Linked DNA regions of Homo sapiens. The protein of the gene in region 1 interacts with the protein of each later gene in a pairwise test. Each region holds a gene or a part of one and is shown in the gene's direction. Other genes may lie near its edges.

Region 1 (7,025 bases):
AGGGAGTTATTGACTCAGCTCTGTGGGCTGAAGCAGTATTTTGGGCGGGGGAGGAATTTCCTACAGTGCCATCAGGCAGTGGAATGGGAAATAGAGAGGGGGCGCTGGTGACAGTGACATTGGTGGTGATGGCGGCTCTCATGTGTCGTGGTAGGGCAAGAGGAAGGTTGAGGGTCAGTAGCCTAGATTAGCAGGGGATTTTCTGTCACATGGAGGCCCGGAAGGGGGCTTTCCAAACTTTGAGATCTGAGATTGAAATTGGAAGAGGGGTGTTCAGGGCCAAATCCTCAATTAATGAAGATACTGACTGGGAGCACAACTGAGTTGGTGTCGGGAGGGTGAAAATCTCGGAGGCAACTTTGGGATTCGGTAAGGCAGGCCACTCTGCAAAGAACACAGCAGCTGATGGAGCTGGGTAGGCAGGGCCAGGCATTGCTTGTTGTCCCTTTTCTGTTTTTCTTTCCCGTTTTTCTCCCTTTCTTTTCCCTAAATGTCTTTCCCTCTTGTGCAGTCACTTGGGTCTCTTTAAATTTTATTAACGGGTTTTTAATTTCTTTATTTCTTTTACTCTCTTTTAATTGAACACACTAAAAAACAAAATTATAATTTGTATATGCTGTTTTATTTAACAACTTTTTGTTTCCATTGATTTTCAAAATATAAATTGAACATTTTGTATGTCACTTTCTAAGAAAAGCTGTGCTTGTAGACTCCTTTATCAACATGTGCCCATCAGATGTCTTCAGTGAGCCAGGTGCCTTCCACAGAAGAAAGATTTCCACTCTTTATAGAAATAGATATTGATTTGTCTTCTCACAGAATTGATATTTTATTGTGTGGTTTATAAAATGATATGACAATTATGAACCTTTCTGATCAGTGCTGAAGCATCTAGATTTAAGAAAACTGCATTTCTGCTTTTGAAAATTTAAACATGGTGACACAACCAGCCAGCCCACGGAAGAGTGGTAGACTCAAAGGACAGAGGAGGGAGACACACAGAGAGCTGCGCATTGGAGAGAAGAGAAGCGACAGGGTGTCCAGCTGCTTACTAATGGGGCTGTTTCTTAAAACACATATTTTAAACATGTTTCACCTTATGTTTATATAAGTAATTGATGGTCATTTTGAAAAAAACTCAAAAATACAAATGAGCTTTTAAAAAAAGCCATAATCTGCAACTCAAAGGGAATCAACTATTGGCATTTTGGCATACATATTTCCAAACTTGAATGTAGTATGTATAAATAGGCTTTAAACAAAGATGGGATCATGTTATTCATGATCAGTATCTAAAACCTGCTCCTCTCATTAATATAAGCATTTCTTCTAATTCAGTTCATACACATCATCTTTTAATGGAAACATAGTATTCCGTTTTATGGATGTACCATAATTGATCTTACTAGTCTCCTCTTTATGATTCTACAATTTGGTTACTATCCACATTGCTACAGTGAACATTCATATAGCACTTGCCTGCTTATGTCTGAAAATAAGCTGGTTGGTTCCAAGAACATGAACATTTCCTGCCAACAACGTAAGGTTTCTGCTGTCTGTAGCCATGTTCTTTAGCGTGCCTGTGCTGTTTCAGAGTGCCCCCATGCTGCCATTTTTCCCATACCTCAGACAGAACTGGGCATTGCCTTTATCCTTCTCTTTCTTTCTACCAATCTGGCAATGAAAAATGTTATATCATTTTAATTACTTGGAAAAAATGTTATCTCATCAAAATATGTTTTCTTATCCTTGCGTTTGAAAATAATGGCTGAGAATTTTTAAGTATTTGCTCTTTGTTGTGGGAGTTCACTTTTTCTTGTTATCTAAGAGTAACTATGAGTGTTTGGGATAAAAGGTATTTATTGTCATGTTATAAATATTTAAAACAGATTTTAATATAAAATATTACTTATAATAAATTCTCTTGATTCATAAACATACTTAGCTCTGTAAGATAATCTGGTGTCTTAAAATTCAGTTTACTCTTATAAATAAGAGGATCACAGCAGATTTTCAGTATTAATATTTCATCAGTGTGAGCTTAGTGAACGGGGTGCTGATTCTTGTTCTTGCCAAGAATAAAAACCACCTTATTTAGAACTAATTCTTTTTTTGCTTTACATTAGTTCATTACTGTTATAAACCTCACTCATTTTTTGTATGTGTTCGGTAATATTTTTCTTGTATGAATTCTAATAATTAAACTGTTTTTCCCTTAGCTTGACCAAGAATGTTCCAATATTTGTTTGCACTATGGCCTACCCCACTGTGCCTTGCCCTCTCCATGTATTTGAGCCAAGATACAGATTGATGATTCGAAGAAGTATACAGACTGGAACCAAACAGTTTGGCATGTGTGTCAGTGATACACAAAATAGGTATGCTTTTTGTGAACCTAAATATTTGTATTTATGTTAGACCTCTCAATATGGATGAGAACTTGCATGTTTATGTTTCAACTTTGTTACTAATCAAGGTTTTCTTTTAGTTTTGCAGATTATGGTTGTATGTTACAAATTAGAAACGTGCATTTCTTACCGGACGGAAGGTCTGTGGTTGATACAGTTGGAGGAAAGCGGTTTAGGGTTTTAAAAAGAGGAATGAAAGATGGATATTGCACTGCCGACATTGAATATCTGGAAGATGTTAAGGTATTTTAAAATGTGCTTTGCCAGCATACTTTCGTATATCCTGTTCCAGGGATTGGTACAGGCATGCAGGCTATTTTCTAGGTGCATGAACCAGTTCTTATCAGACAGCCTTACCACTGTGATGAGAATGTGCTCCAAGTTACCTTTTTCGTATCTTGCTCTGAAACTGTTGCACATTCTAAGAGAACTTGGAAGACTAGAACATAGATTCTCTTTATTTCTGCAGGCTTAACAACCAGCCCAGTGCCTAGAATGTATGTGTATATGTACACATGTGCATGTGTGTATACACGTGATAGGTACTTAACAATAGTGGTTGAATAAGTTGAACTTCCAACCCATCTAAGTTTTGAAAGGTTTACATTTCTGCCCTGTTTTATTGAATGTATTAGTAGTTGAAGCCGATGGAATTAGTAGATTGAAATTTGATGTAAATGTAAACACATCAAATCTTATAAGAATTGTTTTATATATTAAGATTGTTCTTGTGCCTAAGATAACCTTAATGATAAAATAGAGTTGAATGCTGTGTGAAGACCCTGGGGCAGACATAGAAAGCACTGCCAGTGTACATGTTGGTGATATCTTAACAGGGTAGGGTTTTTGTGATGTCTTTCTAGAATAGGGTTAATGTGGCCCTTTTGATGTTTGCAATACCCAGTTTACCTACTGCAGTTAGTTTAGGAACCGGAAAAGTGACTTATGATGCTACAAATACCAAATTGAAGGCAATTTCTTTTGGAAAGGCATTATAAAAACATAGATCTTATCCCTTCTCTTATTCATTGATCTGTTTAGGCCCTTCATTTCGTCAGCATTTATTGGATATTGGCATTAGGTATTTTCACAAACATTAACTCATAGAATTTTCACAACTCTATGAAATAGTAGATGAGGAAAGTACAATTCAGAGGTGTTAATTAATTTGCCTGAGAGCCTATAGATAATGTAACAAAAATGATTAAAGCAAACTGTCTGACTCAGACTTTGAGCTTTATCACTATGCCATTTGGCTCTCTGTTGATAAACCTGATTAGTCTGACGTTGGCAGTCCTATCTTATTATAAAAATGCTATGGGGGTACTTTGTCTTGTGCAGTTGGCCGAAAGTATTGTGTGAGTTGAAATTTTGAGTTGATTGATAGAATCTGTGCCTTAGGCATACTTGGTTAATGGAATCACTTGCTAAAGGTTCTTCTTTGTAAAGTTAATAACCATATTTCAGTTTTGTGTAAATTTATGTCTTCACTTATTGGATTTGATGACAAAATCACTTGAGTATATGGCTAAATTACATGACTATATGTATTAATACTTACAAACATGTAGGCAATAGAATCACATTCTAAAAGTATTACAGATATGATATTTATAAACGAGTCCTCTTTGGTCCTCGGAATGTCTAGTAATCTTTTCTCATCATGTCTTCATCTATATAATGATTTTCTTGTCCATTCTGGAAAACCTTCTCAAATTTGTTTTATATGGCAAATTTTCCTCTTCTTATAATAATTCTGTTTTCTGTGACTTCTAATGAAATTTTAAGTTCTGTTAAAATTATCACAGTAAAGTTCCTTGACTTTAAAAGCTTGCTTTTAAAATGGAGCTGGCCAAAAAGCAGGCAGAGACTTTAAAAGCGTCTCTGCCTGCTTTTTGGCCAGCTCCGTTTTTCATCACTGACGCTTATAATTGTTATCATTCCTTGTTTACCAGAGCCTGTCATTTGTTTTCTTGAATTTTGTGAGGGTGCAGAGCAGATGCTTTAAAAAAAAAAAAAAAAAAGATTTAACAAGGCATAAGTTTGTTTCTTGCTCCTATCAATGTATGTTAGCAGGGGCCTGAATCATGTATAGTCATTTCAGGACCAAAATTCTTCAATTGTGTGGCTCCTCTACCTTTTTTAAAAGTTTATTTTTATTGTGGTAAAATATACATAGAATTTACCATTTTAACCATCTTTGAGTGCACACAGTGGCATTAAGTACATTCACATTGTTATGCAAAAAACAGATGCTCTTTAAACTTTAGTTTTCATTTCAAATCTTTCAAAAGTAAAAAGTTTGCTTTTTTGTCTCTGGTGTGCTGTAGTCTTATTTTTATATTTCGAAATGTTTTCAGAGTCCCTTTGTTGTTTTTAAATGAGTCATCCTTGAAGTATGAAAGGCTGAGTCAGGCCTGGTATTTTTTCAGATGAGTTTGTGCATATGAGACAGAGCACGACCTGGCAAGTAGCAAGTGGGATGTAAGTGTGCATTAAAGAAATCAGTATAAGATGGATGAGTTAAACTTAGATCTTCCCACCTGTGTTCTCTGAGACTACTCTTCTATCTCAGGCTGGAAGCCTGATGCAATTAATTTTACATTTGCAGTTTGGTGACCCAGTAGTCTAAAGAATACACTGAGGGGTTCCAGAGGTAGCCATAGCCTTGGGCCTTGCCAGCAGAAGCTCATCATTGTGTAATTGACTCTCTGACATACTGGCTTTATATGCTAACTTATTTGTTGTAGCTTTTTGTTTGTTTTTGTGTTTTGACCCAGTTCCCTAGTAAAAGATGTAACTGTGCCTGGACTCCTCCTGTTACTACTTTCTGTCATGTCATCTACACCCTAACTACTTATCTTTTCTTTTTTTGTAGCAACTATCATCCACTTTTTTGTTCCACTGCTTTCAAAAACCATTGATCCATAAAGACAAATGGAATTCCAAATTAGACCTCTGAACCAGAACTCACTCTCAATCTTACTCTTCCCACTTGAGGGCTGTTGTAGGGTTCTGCAATATTGCACTGCTAAGTCAGCAAGGTTAGGCATAGGTCAGGCCTTGTTGTCTTTCTTTAGTCTGGTCAGCCCTATATGAGACAGAAATGTGTATTAAAGCATAGGAATAATACTCTCTGGGACGTCAGCACTGAAACAGGTATTGCCCTGTTCTTCTGATCCCTTTTTCCATTTGTGTCGGTTGGCATATGGCATATGGACGGGGGATTAGACACAGAAGTCTTACTGACTATTGTATTTCTAGGTTGAGAATGAAGATGAGATTAAGAATCTCAGAGAGCTTCATGATTTGGTTTACTCTCAAGCCTGCAGCTGGTTTCAGAATTTAAGAGACAGATTTCGAAGCCAAATTCTTCAGCATTTCGGATCAATGCCCGAGAGGGAGGAAAACCTTCAGGTATGGTGGCTTTTCTGTTCTTCCAAAAGTCACTTTTTTATAAACCCAAATTTGCACACTTCTACATTTGTTTTCTCATTGTCCTTTCTGCACTACTTTTTCTTTGACTGTCCCCTCCCCCGCACCAGCCCCACCTCATCTTTGCAATCATGAGTTCTCTAGAGCAGTGGTCTCCACTACATTCCGTACAGATAGAGGCTGGAAATACGTGTCAGCTGAGATGCCTGTAGGAGAGAGTGCCAGAAAGGGAGCAAGTCCTTAAGAGGATTTTTAGGAGTGGGTAAGGAATTAAAAACGGGATGTTACTATCTAGAAACTGTGACTGTGGGACAACTAACCATGCCTTTGAGCCCATCGCCTGTTGCTGTTATTCTTTGACAGCAGAGAGACTTACCATTTTCTATACATTTGAAACATCTTTTCTCACCTTTCTTTGTATCTCCCAACATTTGACCCAACCACTTCAATTCATTTTTGTCTCTTCATGTTTAATACCTCGCTTCTCATGAAACTATTATTCTTTTAGTCTTGCAGGTACTTAGGGTTTACACTTAAGCTTAGTCTAATGAATGTGTATCTGGCACTTTCTGTGCAAGCAAAACTGCAGGAGGCATAAAAGAAGGGTCTGGCTCCTGGAAAATCTGATCATAGACTTACTAAAGCACTACGTTTTAGGCATCGTAGCATTTTGAATTGAACTAAATGTTTTTGATCAGAAGGTGATAGATTTTACAAAGGAATGGCTGTCAGTAAATATGTGAAGATGGAGAGATAATAGATCTCATTGTAATGCACACTGCCTCATTCCCGTTTTCAAGGGTTGGTCTACATTTGTCTGAATCCCAATTGAATCCTTCACCTGAACTTGAAACACCAACATTAGGCCATCTCCAAATTTAGTATTCATTCTGTTTAGCATATTATCAGTTGCCATCTATTTGTTTTAACTGATTACTTGAATCTGATTAAACATCACAGAAATGGGCTTTGATAAGAACAATATTGAATAAGAAATTTTAAATAACAAAACAGCTTATAGAAAAATTCAGCATAACTTTTCCATCACCTTCACCACCCTTGCCTTTTATTATCCTGTCCTGTATCACTGCTTTCTGTTAGCAGTGTTGTGTGAGTTAGGATTTGGGCAGGAAAGCAAAAGCAACCACCCGTCATTTTCCCAGAATGAAGGGTTTGACGTAG
Region 2 (7,572 bases), on another chromosome or scaffold:
GGCCGAGGTGGGTGGATCACCTGAGGTCAGAAGTTCGAGATCAACCTGGCCAATATGGTGAAAGCTTGTCTGTACTAAAAATACAAAAAATTAGCCGGGTGTGGTGGTGGGTGCCTGTAATCCCAGCTACTCAGGAGGCTGAGGCAGGAGAATCCTTGAACCCTGGAGGGGGATCTTGCAGTGAGCTGAGATGGCACCATTGCACTCCAGCCTGGGCGACAGAGACAGACTCTGTCTCAAAAAAAAAAAAAAAAAAATCTCTGTGCACTTCCTCCTTGAAGCCATGTAGCCCAGCTGTATATCCATCTTACCCTTTGGAATATGAGATGCTTAAGGCTGGGACTATGTCCAATTCTCTCTGTACCCCAGTGCCCAGAGGAGTCCAGCACTTACTTATTGTCTGCGGCAGGCATTGAATTTTCCAAATATTCCTGGTCCCAGGTGCTCTTTCAACCTCTTGCTGCCTCCTGTCTGGAGGTGAGGTCTCTTTCCCCTCCCCTTGAGCCTGGGTGGTGCTCATGTGATTGCCTCAACAAATAGAATGTGGTGGAAATGGCACTGGATGGCTTCTGAGGCTAGGTTATAAAAGGGATGTAAGTTCCACCTGGCTCTCACTGGGAATGCTCACCCGTGGACTCCAGCCACCATATTGTGGGGAAGCCCAAGCCATGTGGAAAAGCCACTTGCAGGTGTTCTAGTCAATGGCCTCAGCTAAGATCTTAGCCAAGAGCCAATATTAAGTGGTAGACCTGTGGTATTAAGAACATTCATGCTGTTATACAATTATCACTACCATCCATCCGCAAAACTCTTTTCATCTTGTAAAACCAGAACTCTATGCCTATTAAATGATAAGTCTTCATTCCCCCTCCTACCAGCCCCTAACCACCATTCTACTTTCTTTTGTTGATTCTGGCCACTCTAGGTATCTCAGACAAGTGAAATCATACAGTGCTTTTTCTTTTTCTTTTTTTTTTTTTTTGAGACAGAGTCTCATTTTGTTGCCCAGGCTGGAGTGCAGTGGTGCGACCTCAGCTCACTGCAACCTCTGCCTCCCAGGTTCAAGCGATTCTCCTGCTTCAGCCTCCCGAGTAGCTGGGACTACAGGCACTCATCACCGCACCTGGCTACTGTTTGTAATTTTAATAGAGACGGGATTTCACCATGTTGGCCAGGCTGGTCTTGAACTCCTGACCTCAGGTGATTTTCCCACCTTGGCCTCCCAAAGTGCTGGGATTACAGGTGTGAGCCACCGCACCCGGCCTACAGTGCTTGTTCTTTTATGGCTGTTTTATTTCACTTAATGTTCTCAAGGACCATCCATGTTGTGGCATATGCCAGAATTTCCTTCCTTTTTAGGGCTGAATTGTATGTCTGGCCCACATTTTGCTGACCACTCATCCGTTGATGGACACGTGATGCTTTCACCTCTTGGCTTTTGTGAATGATGCTGCTACAAACGTGGGTGTTCACATGTCTCTTTGAGTTCCTGCTTTTGGTTATTTGGGGGATATACCCAGAAGTGGAATTGCTGGATCATATAGTAATTCTATGATGAGGTTTTTGAGGAACAGCCACGCTGTTTTCACAGGGTTCCAGTTTACTCACATTCTGGCCAACAGTTGTTATTTTCTGGATTTTTTTTTTAATCATAGGCATCCTAATGAGTGTGAGGTGGCAGACTCCCTCAGTCTCTAGGGCAGAGAAGAGAGAGCCTCTGAGAAGGGTCTGTGACTTTGAACACTAGAGCTCTGAGCAGGAACATTCCCGAGGGCTGCTTCTAGTCTCCTGAAGACCAGAGCTAACCACTGGGAATGGATTGTGGTGACTGAAGGGTGCCGAAGTCAGAACTCTCAGTGGCCTGGCACTGTGCCTCGAAGTGCCTCCCTACTGTGTTGATTAGTCTAAAAACATGTCAGCCTTTGGGTATGACCTTACTGGGGCCCCTCCAGACAGGGCATGGAGCAGAGGGCCCTCCTTTATGGGCTGGACTCACTAGTGAAGCTGCTTAACTGTGACTCACCTCCAAGGCTCAAGGTGATGCTAAGGTGCTAAACTGCTGGAACTCTTAGCTGTGCCTGTGTCTCCTTGGGCTCTGGGAGATTTTTTCTTTTAGCAGTATTTTATGGCGATATTGTCTAGGTAGAATAAAATGTACAGATCCTGGTTTTCTGTTTGAGTTTTGTTTTGTTTTGTTTTGAGACAGGGTCTTGCTCTGTCACTCAACCTGCAATGCAGTGGCACGATCATAGCTCACTGTGGCCTCAGCCTCCCAGGCTCAAGCAATACTCCTGCCTCAGCCTCCCTGTAGCTGGGACTACAGGCATGCACCACCATGCCTCACTAATTTTTTTGATTTTTAGTACACAGAAGGTCTTGCTATGCCGCCCAGGCTTGTCTCAAACTCCCGGACTCAAGCAATTCTCCTGCCTCAGTCTCCCAAAGTGCTGAATTACAGGTGTCAGCTGCTGCACCCAGCCTCAGCCTGTTGTTAATGGATGTAAACACCTGTGGGACCACCACCCAGAACCAGATCCAGAACATTTCCAGCCTCTCGAAGACTCCTTCGTGCCCCTCCCAGTCAGTGACTCCCAAGGGTAACGCCACTCTGGCCTGTTGTTCAACTTGACTCGAATGGAATTCTCACAGCATGTGTCTGTTTGGATCTGGCTTCTTCCGCTCAGTTGCAAGGCTCATTGACGTTTCCTGTGGCCTAGCTCCTTTTTATTGCTGAGGGCCACCCTGTGGTGTGAAAACCACAATTCATTTCTCCCTTCTTCTGTTGGTGACTATTTGCATTGTTACCAGCCTGGGGCTATGACGAGTAAAGCTTTTAAAAACAGACAAATATGTTTTCCTTTCTCTTGGGTAATTTTTCAGAAGTAGAAAAGCCAGCAACTTTGAAGTAGATATTTGACTATATTACAACTCACCAAGCAGTTTTTCTTTCTTTTTATTTTTTTTATTTTTTGAGACAGAGTCTTGCTCTGTTACCTAGGCTGGAGTGCAGTGGCGTGATGAGGGTTCACTGCAGCCTCGGCCTCCTGGGCTCAAGTGAGCCTCCCACCTCAGCCTCCCACATAGCTGGGACCACAGGTGTGCACCACCACACCTGGCTAATTTGCCTTTTAAATTATATGTAGAGACAGGGTCTTCCTATCTTGACCAGGCTGGTCTCAACTTCTTGGACTCAAGTGATCCTCCCGCTTCAGCCTCCCAAAGGGCTGGGATTACAGGCATGAGCCACCACGCCCTGCCCATTTTTCTAAGTTGGATTATTTTACACTCAAGTCTGCTATGAATGATAGTTCCAGTTGTTCCATATCCCAATCAATTGGTGATTGCTACAAATGACGTGACGTGATGAAAATATTCCTGGTGTTCGAGAGGATTGCAAAGAATTTCCCTTCTTTTCTCTCCTTTCTGCTCCCCTTGTACTGTCTACTCCTTAACTTGGTCAAATTCTACTTGATCCAGAACATAATGGGATGGTGAGTGCAGACGACACACACGGCCTCAGTCTATGGGAACATCTCAAAGGAGTTCGTCTGCAAATTCTAGTGCATCTAGGCAGAACACAGGAAGGAAGAGAGGTGCAGACTCACGTATGGCCTGGGGCACCTGCCATCCCCTCGAGCCTGTATGGTCCTTACCCGCCCATCCCCAGCTTGAGTTCTGGGCCTTCTCGCCAGCACATCGTTGGGACCTGGTCAACTTCAGGTAAGTTTATTTCATGGCTCCCTCTCCCCTCTGCAGCCTATCCTGTTATTCTCTGTTTCAGCCAATTATTTCCCCTAACTAGGTGCTGAAGCCAATTAAAGGCAGTTCATGCCATATGTTCCTTCCCACTCCCATGTCACTTGAAATGTTCTATTATGTCCAAGACTTCTCTCCCCATCCTAAAGCTCACAAAATAAGGATGGAGAAGAGAAGAAAGAGAGATTCACTGAGGGGGAGGATCAGAAGCTCCTGGGCACCCCATACTCTAGAATAAAAATCTTCATTATAGTGTTTTTCATGCAAAATATTCCCTTCTACATAATTATGTTTTAACATGAAGAATAGAAATTTAAAGAGGAGAAATACTTCTTGAAGATTCTGAGAATCTTCATATAGCTCAGGCTGCCACGAATTAGCTGTGTGACCTGGGGCATGTCCCTCAGACTCTGAGCCTCAGCTTCTCTATATGTAAAATGGGTTGAAGCCGCCCTTCCCCACAAGCACCCTGTGCACAGGCAATGCCCAGCCCCATTATTTTCTGGAACCAGTGGCCAAGCATGCTTAGGACACCCAGCCACATACTTCTGGGCAGTGTCATCTGGCAACTCACTGTCATGTCAGTGTGGTCAAGCATTGTAGACCTCTATGAACCAAATATGCTTCAGGCTGGGGTTGAGCACAGGAGAGGGAGGAGGGAAAGGTCACTGGGGCTGGGAGTGCCTACTTCCCTCTATGAGTGTCACCCCAGTTCACCCAACACCCTACCTTTCTCTCTCTGGACCCACTTCCTCTTGCTGCCGGCTCCTCCCCATTGAATAACAGCCAAGTTGCTTTGGTTTCTATTACTTTGTTAAGTCATTCCTTCTGCAAAGGACTGCCTGGCAGGTGTGAAAGGCAGCGGTGGCCACAGAGGCGGTGGAGATGGCCTTCAGCGGTTCCCAGGCTCCCTATCTGAGCCCAGTGAGTTCCAGGGCCGTGGGCACAGGGCTGCCTCAGCCAGGGGGACACAGTTATGGGGCTCTGAGGAAGCAACTCCTGGGTGGCAGGAGACAGGGGTGGGGGCATCCCAAAGAGAACACAAGCAGGGCAGAAATGTCAGTGGGGGTCGTCCTGGCACAGCTGTGCCATGCTGAGCTCACTCATGCCTGGAGGGATGCTCCTCCCATGAATCATGGGTTTGACAGTGTTGGCTGAGCTGTCGTGTCCTGTCCTGTGCGCTCAGGGGAAGAGGTGTAGAGTGGGATGGTTTGTGTAAAGAGGAAGCAAGCATGCTTCTGGGACAGTAAGGATGCTACCCGGCATGGTAGTTAAGGGTGCGTACTGTGGAGTTGGCCTCCCTGGGTCCAGCTATTTACTGGCTGGTGGTCTCTGGGCCTCAGTTTCCATATCTGTGAAGTGGGAATAATACTTGAGCCCCCCACTCCCAGGGTTGGGATATGGATTAAGGAAGTAGTGTATCTAGAGTGTTTGAACAGTGCCTGACACACTGTAGGTGCTTTGGGAGTGTTTCATGTTATTGGGAGTCTGGGGGCAGCAGGGAAGGCCTCCCGAGGAGGTGTCTGTGCTCTGAAGGGTGAGGCGGAGTTAACCAGGCATAGGCATGTCAGGGCATCTGTAGACGGACAGTCTCAGAGGTGACGGAGGCAGGGACTGTCCCTGCAGTGTGGGGTCAGAGGGCTGCAGGTGCCTTGCTGAAACTCTGTGAGGTTTATGAGTCCCCTTCATTCACGGAAAATCCAAGGTTCAGGGAGGCAAAGGCCAGTTGCCAAATGCCCCCAGATGGGAGTGGCAGCCCCAGGAGCCCAGGAGCCTTCAGGGGTGACTGTGTCCTGGGCTGGGTCCTGTCACAGGATCTCACCCTGCCTTGGCAAAGAGCTTCCCGAGGGGCTGGAGTGGGTGGGCTGATGGGCCCTTCCTGAGTGGGGAGACAGAATGGGGAGGGTGGGCAGAGGCAGGGTGCTGAGGGCAGGGAAGCTGCCAGGGGCCACCTCAGCAGAGGCCAGGGTCGGGCTTGGGTGCCCTCTGGTGATACTGAGTCCAGAATGAGGCTGCCTATGTTCTGGTCTGCAGAGCTCAGCTCTGCTTTCTAGACTCCAGAGAGGAAGAATGGAGAAAGGAGGCCTGTTTCCTCCTGGCTGTCACCAATGACCCCTCAGCCACCCTATGGAAGCCCCCAAGGTAGAACCTGCATAGAGGGAGTGGGGGAAGCTGGAACGGGCTGCCGGTGTTGGGCGAGCCTTAGAGTCAGCGTATGCCACCTTGAGCATGTCACCCCGTTTCTGGTTTTCTGCCAGAGAGGGGATCCCAGAGCTTCTTCCAGGTTCTGACATATTATTATTCTGGTAACTGGTTTTTACTTTCTAATCTTTGGATTCAGAAGGAAAATCCTCCTATGCACATCAGAGAGTTTGAGAGAGTTAAAGCGGGGCCTTGGAGCTCAGACAAGAAAGACGATCAGTGCAGCCCCCACAGGTGTCCAGAGCTCCCCTCTACCCTACGGGGGCTCCCCTGGGTTGGGACACTTGAGCCTCACTCGGTGACCCATCTGGCAGTCGGAGCCACGCTTTCTCCACATGCCGACAGTGGGGGAAGGTCACGCGGTTCACTGTCCTGCTGAGGAGGGCTGAGTGCCATGAGGGCCTGGCTTGGAAACCTCACTCCCACTTCTTGTCTGGCCTCATCTAGCCCAGCCTCTTTGGAGGGCTGGGGGGAAGCTGGAACCACCTGCTGTGTGGCCCAGGAAGCACTGCGAGAGCCAGGAATAAGGACGTTCCGAGCTTCCTCATGAGAGGAAGCCTGTGTGGTGGTTAGAAGCGTGGGTGCTGGGGTTCAAATCCCAGCTCTGTTGCCGACCAGCTGTGTAGCTTTGGGCAAGTGACTGAACTTTTCTGTGCCTCAGTTTCCTCATCTGTAAAAGTGGCCGGGGTTGCTGTGAGGATAAATGTTCCCGGTCACCCCCAGAGCCCTCATGGACACACATGGATCCAAATGCCACAGCAGCCTTAGCTGGCCAACTTAAAACAACACATTTGTGCTTACAGTGTTGGAGGTCAGAAGGCTAAAATCAAAGTGTCATGAAAGGTGGCCAGCAGGACCGTGGAGCCTCTGAGGCAACAGGGCACTTTGGCTAAGGGCCACGTACTGGCTCCAGCTGGCAGGCAGTCTCGGCCAGCCAGGCTGAGCTCCCTACTCCTGGGGCCAGGCCTTGGTGTCCTCTGGTGATGCTGAGTCCAGAATGAGGCTGCCCACATTCTGGTCCGCAGGGCTCAGCTCTGCTTTGACTTCCAGGTAGGAAGAAGAGGGAAAGTCCCCGGTCTCTGGGCACAACCAGGAACAGAGAGCAAGTTCTGACTCAGCAGAGGGATTGATTTGTTCCATGCAAAGAGCTGCACTGTCAAGGCCGACATGGGCCAGAGGCTCAGCACATGGCATCGCACCCCGTCCTCTCAGAACGCTGCCAGCCAGGGACTCAGCACATGGCATTCCACCCAGTCCTCTCCAGAATGCTGCCAGCCAGGGACTCAGCACACAGCATTGCACCCAGTCCTCTCCAGAACACTGTCGGGTGGTGTTACTGCCCTGCCATTCAGAGGAGGGAAGTGGGGCACAGGCAGGTCAAGTGACTTGGCCAGTGTCAGAATTGCTAGTGTACAGAGCTGGGAGGCGAGCCCAGGCCCATGGGACCACAAATCCAACACAAAAATCCATCCTCCTGCACCCTACGGAGCAAAAGTAGGTCCAGTTGTTTTCCTGGGTTTCCTGGACACACGGATCTAAATTCCACAGCAGCCTTGGCTGGCCAATCTTAAAACAACAAATTTGCTTTCTTAATGATTCTGGAGGGCAGATGTT
Region 3 (7,025 bases), on another chromosome or scaffold:
GGGAGAACCACTTGGAGCCTTGTCATACTAAACTACCCCAGCTCTGATGCTTCTCCCCCGAACTCCCTTATCCCATGGCAGGACAACATCTAACAAGGAGAGAGTACTGATTCCCAAATTCTAGGACACTGGGTAATTTCCCAAGGAATCAACACATACCTGCTCCCTTCCCCTTCCCTGAAAAGTATTAAAAAAAAAAAAAGGCAAGCTGTCCCTCAGCTCATTGGTCAGGGGGCTTCCTACCCTTTGAAGATGCCTCATTCTGGGCGCTACCCCTCCAAAGGCAGAGACCTGGGTCTGTGGAAAGGGAGAGAGAGGTAGAAAGTGATGGAGTCACACTGTGCAGGGGGAAGCAGTGTCCCAGATGTCCCCAATGCTCTTAAAGAAGCCGTTTATGTTGGCATACTGAACAGACACGTGTCACATTCAAATCTATGTAATTCCAATTCAGAGGATGCTTACCCACCCTCATGCCTGGGGAAAGCACACAGATGGGAGCCTTGAGAAGTAAGGCTGGGAAAGATTTTCACCACACTGATCTTTTGGGATGAATGGGAATACCTAGGGAATAGCTGGGAGAATCTGCCAGGAATACCAAGGAAAGGATTCCTGACCTAGATGGGTAGTTAACCACGAAGATTTAAGATTCTTCATCTTATGCCTTGGTGATGCTGAGTTTACTGCCCTGCAGGAGCTGTCCCAGTTGCAGACCCAGGTCGGTGACACATCCGTGGTGCTGTCCATGGACAACAACCGCAACCTGGACCTGGATAGTATCATCGCCGAGGTCAAAGCACAATACGAGGACATTGCCAACCGCAGCCGGGCCGAGGCTGAGTCCTGGTACCAGACCAAGGTGAGCATGGACACCTCCATGAGAGGTTCCAGGGTTAGTGTTCTCTGAGGCTCCACATTATCACTTAACTCAGCCTCAGGAAACGTGTGAGCACATTCGTTTATTTCAACTTAGCAGGCATGTCTTTGATGCTATGACAACTTAGCTTGAAATGCATGTGGAAACCGAACCAGACACACTAATACATGGTCAGCCCAATGCTGGGAGCTCAGGACATCCACTGGCCCCACATTCCTCAAGATCTGGGTGGGAGCAGGGTGAGACACCAGGACAACCGAGACACAGTCATGAAGCAGTTTCTAAAAGGCTTATTTATTCTCTATATATTTTCTGAGCTCCTGCTGTATGCCAATCAGGGTTACAGGGTTGCAAATAAATAAACTGCAAACAGAGAACCCAAGCTCTGGGAGGCCATGAAGTGAATGGACAATCATGGAAGGGAAAAGATAGCATGAATAAAAAGCTTCCAGGAAGACATGGGGGCTTTGTACAGTTGGGAAGCCATGAGGGACAAAAGATTGCTGAGGAGTGGGGAGAGGTTTAAGGCTGAACAAGGAGCTGGCAGGCAAGAACAAGCAAGGGAGTTTATGTCAGGAAGAGGAAGGCTGGGATAAACACAAACAGCTACTGCCCAGAGCTCAGACAGCCGCAAAGAAGTTTGGCTTTGCGGGGTACAATTGACCCATGATACCAGCTCCCTGTCAAATCCAGACCCCTCTTGGGGCAGCTTCTCACCTACGAGCAGGTTCCAACTCTTTCCCTGCTCCATACGTTGCCTCATCCCTTCTGGTCAGGAGTGTGGTGGAAAGGAAGGTGGGTAGCAGGGACCAGGGTTCCACAGGGCAGAGGCAGCGCCTTGACGGTGAAAGGAAACATGATGCACTTAACCCCAAGGTGAAGTGGTTGAAATCGATAGCAAACGATTCCTCATGTTGTTGGGTTGTTGCTCCATTTAATCATGTATACCTAGAAGCGGGAACCTGAGCTATTCAGCACTTTCAAGAACCCCACAGATCTTGACTCTGGCAGGGGATCTCCTTTTGTCAGGGAAAGGTGTAGGTTTCACTTCAGTCTGCTGGAGGAGACAGGGTGTAATTATTGCTCTTAAATTCACATGTCCTGGATATGCACCATTAGATTGAGAACTACCTGAGATTGGGAATACTTTTACAAAGTCTTCAAAATTGTGCCTTCCACAGCCTCTGCACCATCCCACACCATTCCCCCATATCTCCTCCCTGTTTCCCCAGCACTGGTGTTTGGAGGGCTACCAAAATTCATGGGCACAGTTGGTCTGGATGCACGCTCTGTGACCAGGAACTACCCAGGGACCTTGATCAAATCACCGTCTCACTCCTAGAACTCACCATGTTCCTTCCCTGACCCAGAGTCTTCATGCAGGCTGTTTCCTTTGTCTGGAATGTTCTCCCCCACAACTGGTCACTTAGGTCCCTCCTTCTCATCCTTCAGACCACAGTTCAAGCATCTCCATCTCTGGAGAGACTTCTCTGACCACCACTTCCCACTTCCAAATCTAGGTCAGATTCCTTCATTACACTCTCCCAGGACCCTGTTCATTTCCTAAGGGCACTTATCTTAGTGTGGAACTATACATTTGATAATATGCTAATTCAGTTAATGTCTATGTCCCCCAATAAACTGTAAGCTTCAGGGGGAATGAGTGAATGACCAGGAATGAATGAGCCTGCTTGTGGCACCCAGGGTGGGTCTGTGTGCACAGCGAGTGCCTGGGCCAGGCATTTGACTCAGTGACTGGGTTTGCTCTGGTTCTCTCAGTACGAGGAGCTGCAGGTCACCGCAGGCAGACATGGGGATGACCTTCGAAACACCAAACAAGAGATCTCTGAAATGAACCGCATGATCCAGAGGCTGAGAGCTGAGATTGACAGCGTCAAGAAGCAGGTAAAGATTTGGCAGGGCCAAGAGCTCCTCAAATGCTCATTTCTTCTGGGCCTTTCTGCCATCTTTAAGAACTCCTCCCCAAGAAGCACCACACCTCCATGGGCTGTCAGCAGGACTCATGGCTTCCTCCTGTCCTTACAGTGTTCCAGCTTGCAAACGGCCATTGCTGATGCAGAGCAGCGGGGAGAACTGGCTCTCAAGGATGCACGGGCCAAGCTGGTGGACCTTGAGGAGGCCCTGCAGAAGGCCAAGCAGGACATGGCTCGGCTCCTGCGTGAGTACCAGGAGCTGATGAACATCAAGCTGGCCCTGGACGTGGAGATCGCCACCTACCGCAAGCTGCTGGAAGGCGAGGAGTGCAGGTGAGGCAGATGCACCAACTTCATCCTCAAAGCAAGTTGAGCTCACCTCAGCTTCCTGGGCATTCCTAGGGGCTCGGGCTGTTGCAGCCCCTTCTTCTCCTGGAAGAAAATGCAGTTCAGAATTGGGCTATGGCAAAAAAATAATTTTAATTTCCTTCCAGGCTAGTAAATCATTTGAGGTGCAACTACAGTTAGCATCCCCATAGAAACCTAAAACCTGATCAGGTCTAAGTAACTGAATTCTACCAAAGGAGACATTTGGTTACATGGCAGCTCTCGAAATGTGGTCTAAAAGGCCATGGGCTGAGAACAAACAGTCCTAGGATTTGGGCTTACAGATCTAACACTAAGTAGCTACATAACCTTGGGAAAGTCAGTCTCCCTTCTCTGGCCCTCAATTTCTTCAATGATAAAATGAAAAGGTCAGATTACATGATCCGCAAAGCTTCATGGGAGCTTTGTGCTCTGCCAGTTAGGAGCTGTGTAGCCAAGAGCAGATACTTAACCTCTCCACCTCTCAGTGTTCTCATCCAATAAAATGTGAATAACAATAGTTCTAAACTCTCACATTATTAAAAGGGTTAAAATAAGGGAATACACACAAAGCTCTTAGAACAATGCATGGTACACAGCGTGTTCGATAAATGTTAGCTATCATTCAGTTTCATGGCCAAAGACATAGGCTTTGGTGTCAGATGAATCTGTCTTCAAGTCCAGCTTTGCGACTATGGGCAAGTTAGTTAACTTGTCTGAGCTTCCATTTCTCCCTCTATAAAAGTGAGCAAATAATACCTACCTCATGGGGTTGTTGAGAGAACTAAGTGGTGTGATATAAGTAACAGGTAATCAACAGCTGTTACCTCTTGTTAAGTTTCTCAGTATGTGTTTATGAATGAATGCCAGTTCTGTCCTGAAGATGCTAAAGCAAAGTTACTTGGTTGCTAAGATAATAATAAACTGATATTACTATTGTTATTTTTATGACTCAGACGCCTCTCCACACCTATATACAATAAGCTCAGCCCTGGCTCAGTGCATGACAATGGTCCCTTGTTGAGAGACAAATCTTATTATAGGACAGGCCCTTCTTTCCAGTTGATGCCAGTATATGATTACTTTTAATTTCCTTAAGGCATCTAACTAGTTTAAACCAAAAATTGTATTTCTGAGATTATAGATTTTGCTCCTGTGAACCTCAAACTCCACCTTATTTTATTCATTAGATTATTAATATTATCTTTAATACTACTAGTTCTCAAATAATTTCAACCTGCATTACTTCTGCAATAAAAATAATAAAGTATGTTTAAATGCTTTGTCAACAATTACAAAAGTGTCATTGCAAAGGCCCTTAAGCTGCTGGCCACATTGGTAACCTTCCTTCTCCCTGCTCTTCCCAATCAGGTTGAGTGGAGAGGGAGTTTCTCCAGTTAACATTTGTGAGTATGACATACTTCTTGGGCCATTTGGAGTGTGTGTGGTAGAGGGGATGGGGATGTGGTGGGCTTGCCAGAGGGTGAAGATATGACGGGTTAGACGGGATCTCACAGACAGCGTTCATTTGGAGAAGGTTTGAGGTTTTGGGTCCCTTAAAAAGCAAGCCATATTAGGAGTCTTTAATGTCACAGTTCTTTCCTCTTTGAGAGTGAGGGTGTCACAGAAGGGGTGATGAGAGGTTTGATGTCATTGTTCTGAGTGGGTTTAAAAGATCCTGGCCACATCTCCTACCTCCCAGAATTCCCTGCCTTTTTGTTGGGGCTGCAAGCCTAGCACAGAGGTGAGCACTTGATGTAGACGGGATTTATGAAAATTCCTGGTCTGGCTTGGACCTTTGAAGGGAGCCTTCATGCTGTGGACAAGAGCATTGCCAACTAGGCAGCTTCTCTCCTAAACAGTTTGAGAAGAAGCTCCACTGCTTGGCTCAACTCTGCCGAGTATAACTGCAGAAGGATGCCAAGGGTTTTCAAGGCAGTAAGGGCAGCATAAAATATGGCAGTTGGCTACAGTAGCTCTAAAACAGGAGAGGTATTAACAAGCTGGCATGGCCCTGTGCTGGTGAGAGAAGAAGTGGTCATTCGCAGAGCTCAGTGCTGGCATCACAAGGGCAACAGAAATGACTCTTACAACTCACCCTCTACAAGTGAGTTTGAGTTTGGTTTTCTTGATGGGCATTCATAAGGGCAATTCATTATATTAGCCAATGATTCTAGAAGGCAGAGCCCTCTGAACCACCCAGGTGTCCTTCCTCCCTGATGTCTTTGTCTAGTGGTGCCAGAGACCCTCAAAGCTAATTTTGGGGACAGGCCTTCAAGCATAACCTTGAAGCTCCTTTTCTCTTGAAAACACCTAATTGTCTGTATTAGTTTTCCAGGGCTGTTGCAAAAAGTACCACCAGTCAGGTGGTTTAAAGCAACAGAAATGTCTTGTCTCACAGTTCCGGAGGCTGAAATTAAGGGTTAGCAGGGCCCTGGTCCCTCTGAAACTTGGAGCCTGGACCAGCCTCCTGCTCTGTATATCATGCAGGGTGGCACTATCCCCTCTCCAAACCAGATAGTGTTCTGGAACACGGAGGCAGCATGGGCAGCCCAGCCCCCCTCCAGCCTCCTCCTAGCTCTGGCGGTGGCCATCCATCCTCGGTGTTCCTTGGCTTGTGGCTGCATCCCTCCACTCTCTGTTTCTGTGATTGTATGACCGTGTCCCTGTGTGTCTGTGGCTTCAGATGAATGTCTTCCTTCTTTCTGTATGGACACCAGTCATGTTAGATCAGGGCCCACCCTACAGACTTTATCTTAACTTGGTTATACCTGCAACGATCCCATTTCCAAATAAGGTTGCATTCACGGATACTGGTGTTAACACTTCACCATAGGTTTTTGAAGGACACAATTCATCCTATAACGGAGTCTATTTTTTTAAAATTTGATTTTCCTTCGGCAGGACCCAAAGTAGGGTGCTAGAATGTGTAAGGGGATGAGTTATAAATTAGGAGAAGAATAGGTTGGGAGGAGAACGGGGGCAGAGTTCACTGGCCAACAGGTTAATCTGTCACTTGATCCATCAAGAATATTCCAGCCTCCACCCTGGGATTCTGAGTGTGGGGCTGGGAGACGCTGAGGGAAGAGGAGTGTGCCCCTCCCCCCATAAGCATCCAGAAGGAAGAGAAACTCTGGAGTCAGGCTCAGACAGGGAGACAGACCCAGACGGCACAGCAGGAGGATCAAAGGGAAAGCAGGTGGACTGGAGCTGCTTCCAGGAGGAGAGGGCTCCAGTAGGTTCTGGAAGGGGAGGAGGAAGCCATTCCAGCCTAAGAGGCTGCCTGGAGCTGCAGCTCAGGAACACAGGCAGTGATCTCACTAAGCAGGGGACATTGGAAGGAGGCAAACTGCTGGCTGACGAGACCACCCCCTCCCCACCCAAGGACTCCAGGGCACAGGCCCTCACACTCCCAGCTGTCTTCTCGCTTGCACTTGATCTGACCACACCTCCTCTCTTCCCGGCAGCTGTGGTCACCTCTACTCTTTCCAGTGGCTATGGAAGCGGCAGCAGCATTGGAGGTGGAAACCTGGGCCTCGGTGGGGGCAGCGGCTACTCCTTCACCACCAGTGGTGGGCATAGCCTGGGTGCAGGCCTGGGAGGTTCTGGATTCAGTGCCACCAGCAACCGGGGCTTAGGGGGCAGTGGTTCTAGCGTCAAGTTTGTCTCCACCACATCCTCCAGCCAGAAGAGCTACACGCACTAAGAGAGCCCCATGGCTCCCTCTACCCTGCCTTGAGGCCTGTTTGCAGTCACACCTGGACACCAGGGTCCTCCTCCTTCCTCTCTCCTTGTAAGGTGCACCTGTGCTGCTGGGAGCCTGGAGTACTGGCTATACCCATTCCCAGGCC

The links. The genes of interacting proteins can lie anywhere in the genome.
Region 2: the proteins of LONRF1 (region 1) and LGALS9B interact in binary tests that used the Homo sapiens proteins (3 or more experiments, as listed by UniProt).
Region 3: the proteins of LONRF1 (region 1) and KRT75 interact in binary tests that used the Homo sapiens proteins (3 or more experiments, as listed by UniProt).

What each region holds. Positions count from the first base shown.
Region 1 is NC_000008.11:12,724,527-12,731,551, reverse strand, and holds part of LONRF1 (LON peptidase N-terminal domain and RING finger protein 1), read left to right. Parts: intron 1-2,219; coding exon 2,220-2,378; intron 2,379-2,488; coding exon 2,489-2,651; intron 2,652-4,247; exon of another isoform or gene 4,248-4,320; intron 4,321-5,672; coding exon 5,673-5,825; intron 5,826-7,025.
Region 2 is NC_000017.11:20,464,540-20,472,111, reverse strand, and holds the start of LGALS9B (galectin-9B), read left to right. Parts: upstream 1-4,572; 5' UTR 4,573-4,641; coding exon 4,642-4,680; intron 4,681-7,572.
Region 3 is NC_000012.12:52,424,372-52,431,396, reverse strand, and holds part of KRT75 (keratin, type II cytoskeletal 75), read left to right. Parts: intron 1-691; coding exon 692-856; intron 857-2,653; coding exon 2,654-2,779; intron 2,780-2,920; coding exon 2,921-3,141; intron 3,142-4,545; coding exon 4,546-4,580; intron 4,581-6,641; coding exon 6,642-6,880; 3' UTR 6,881-7,025.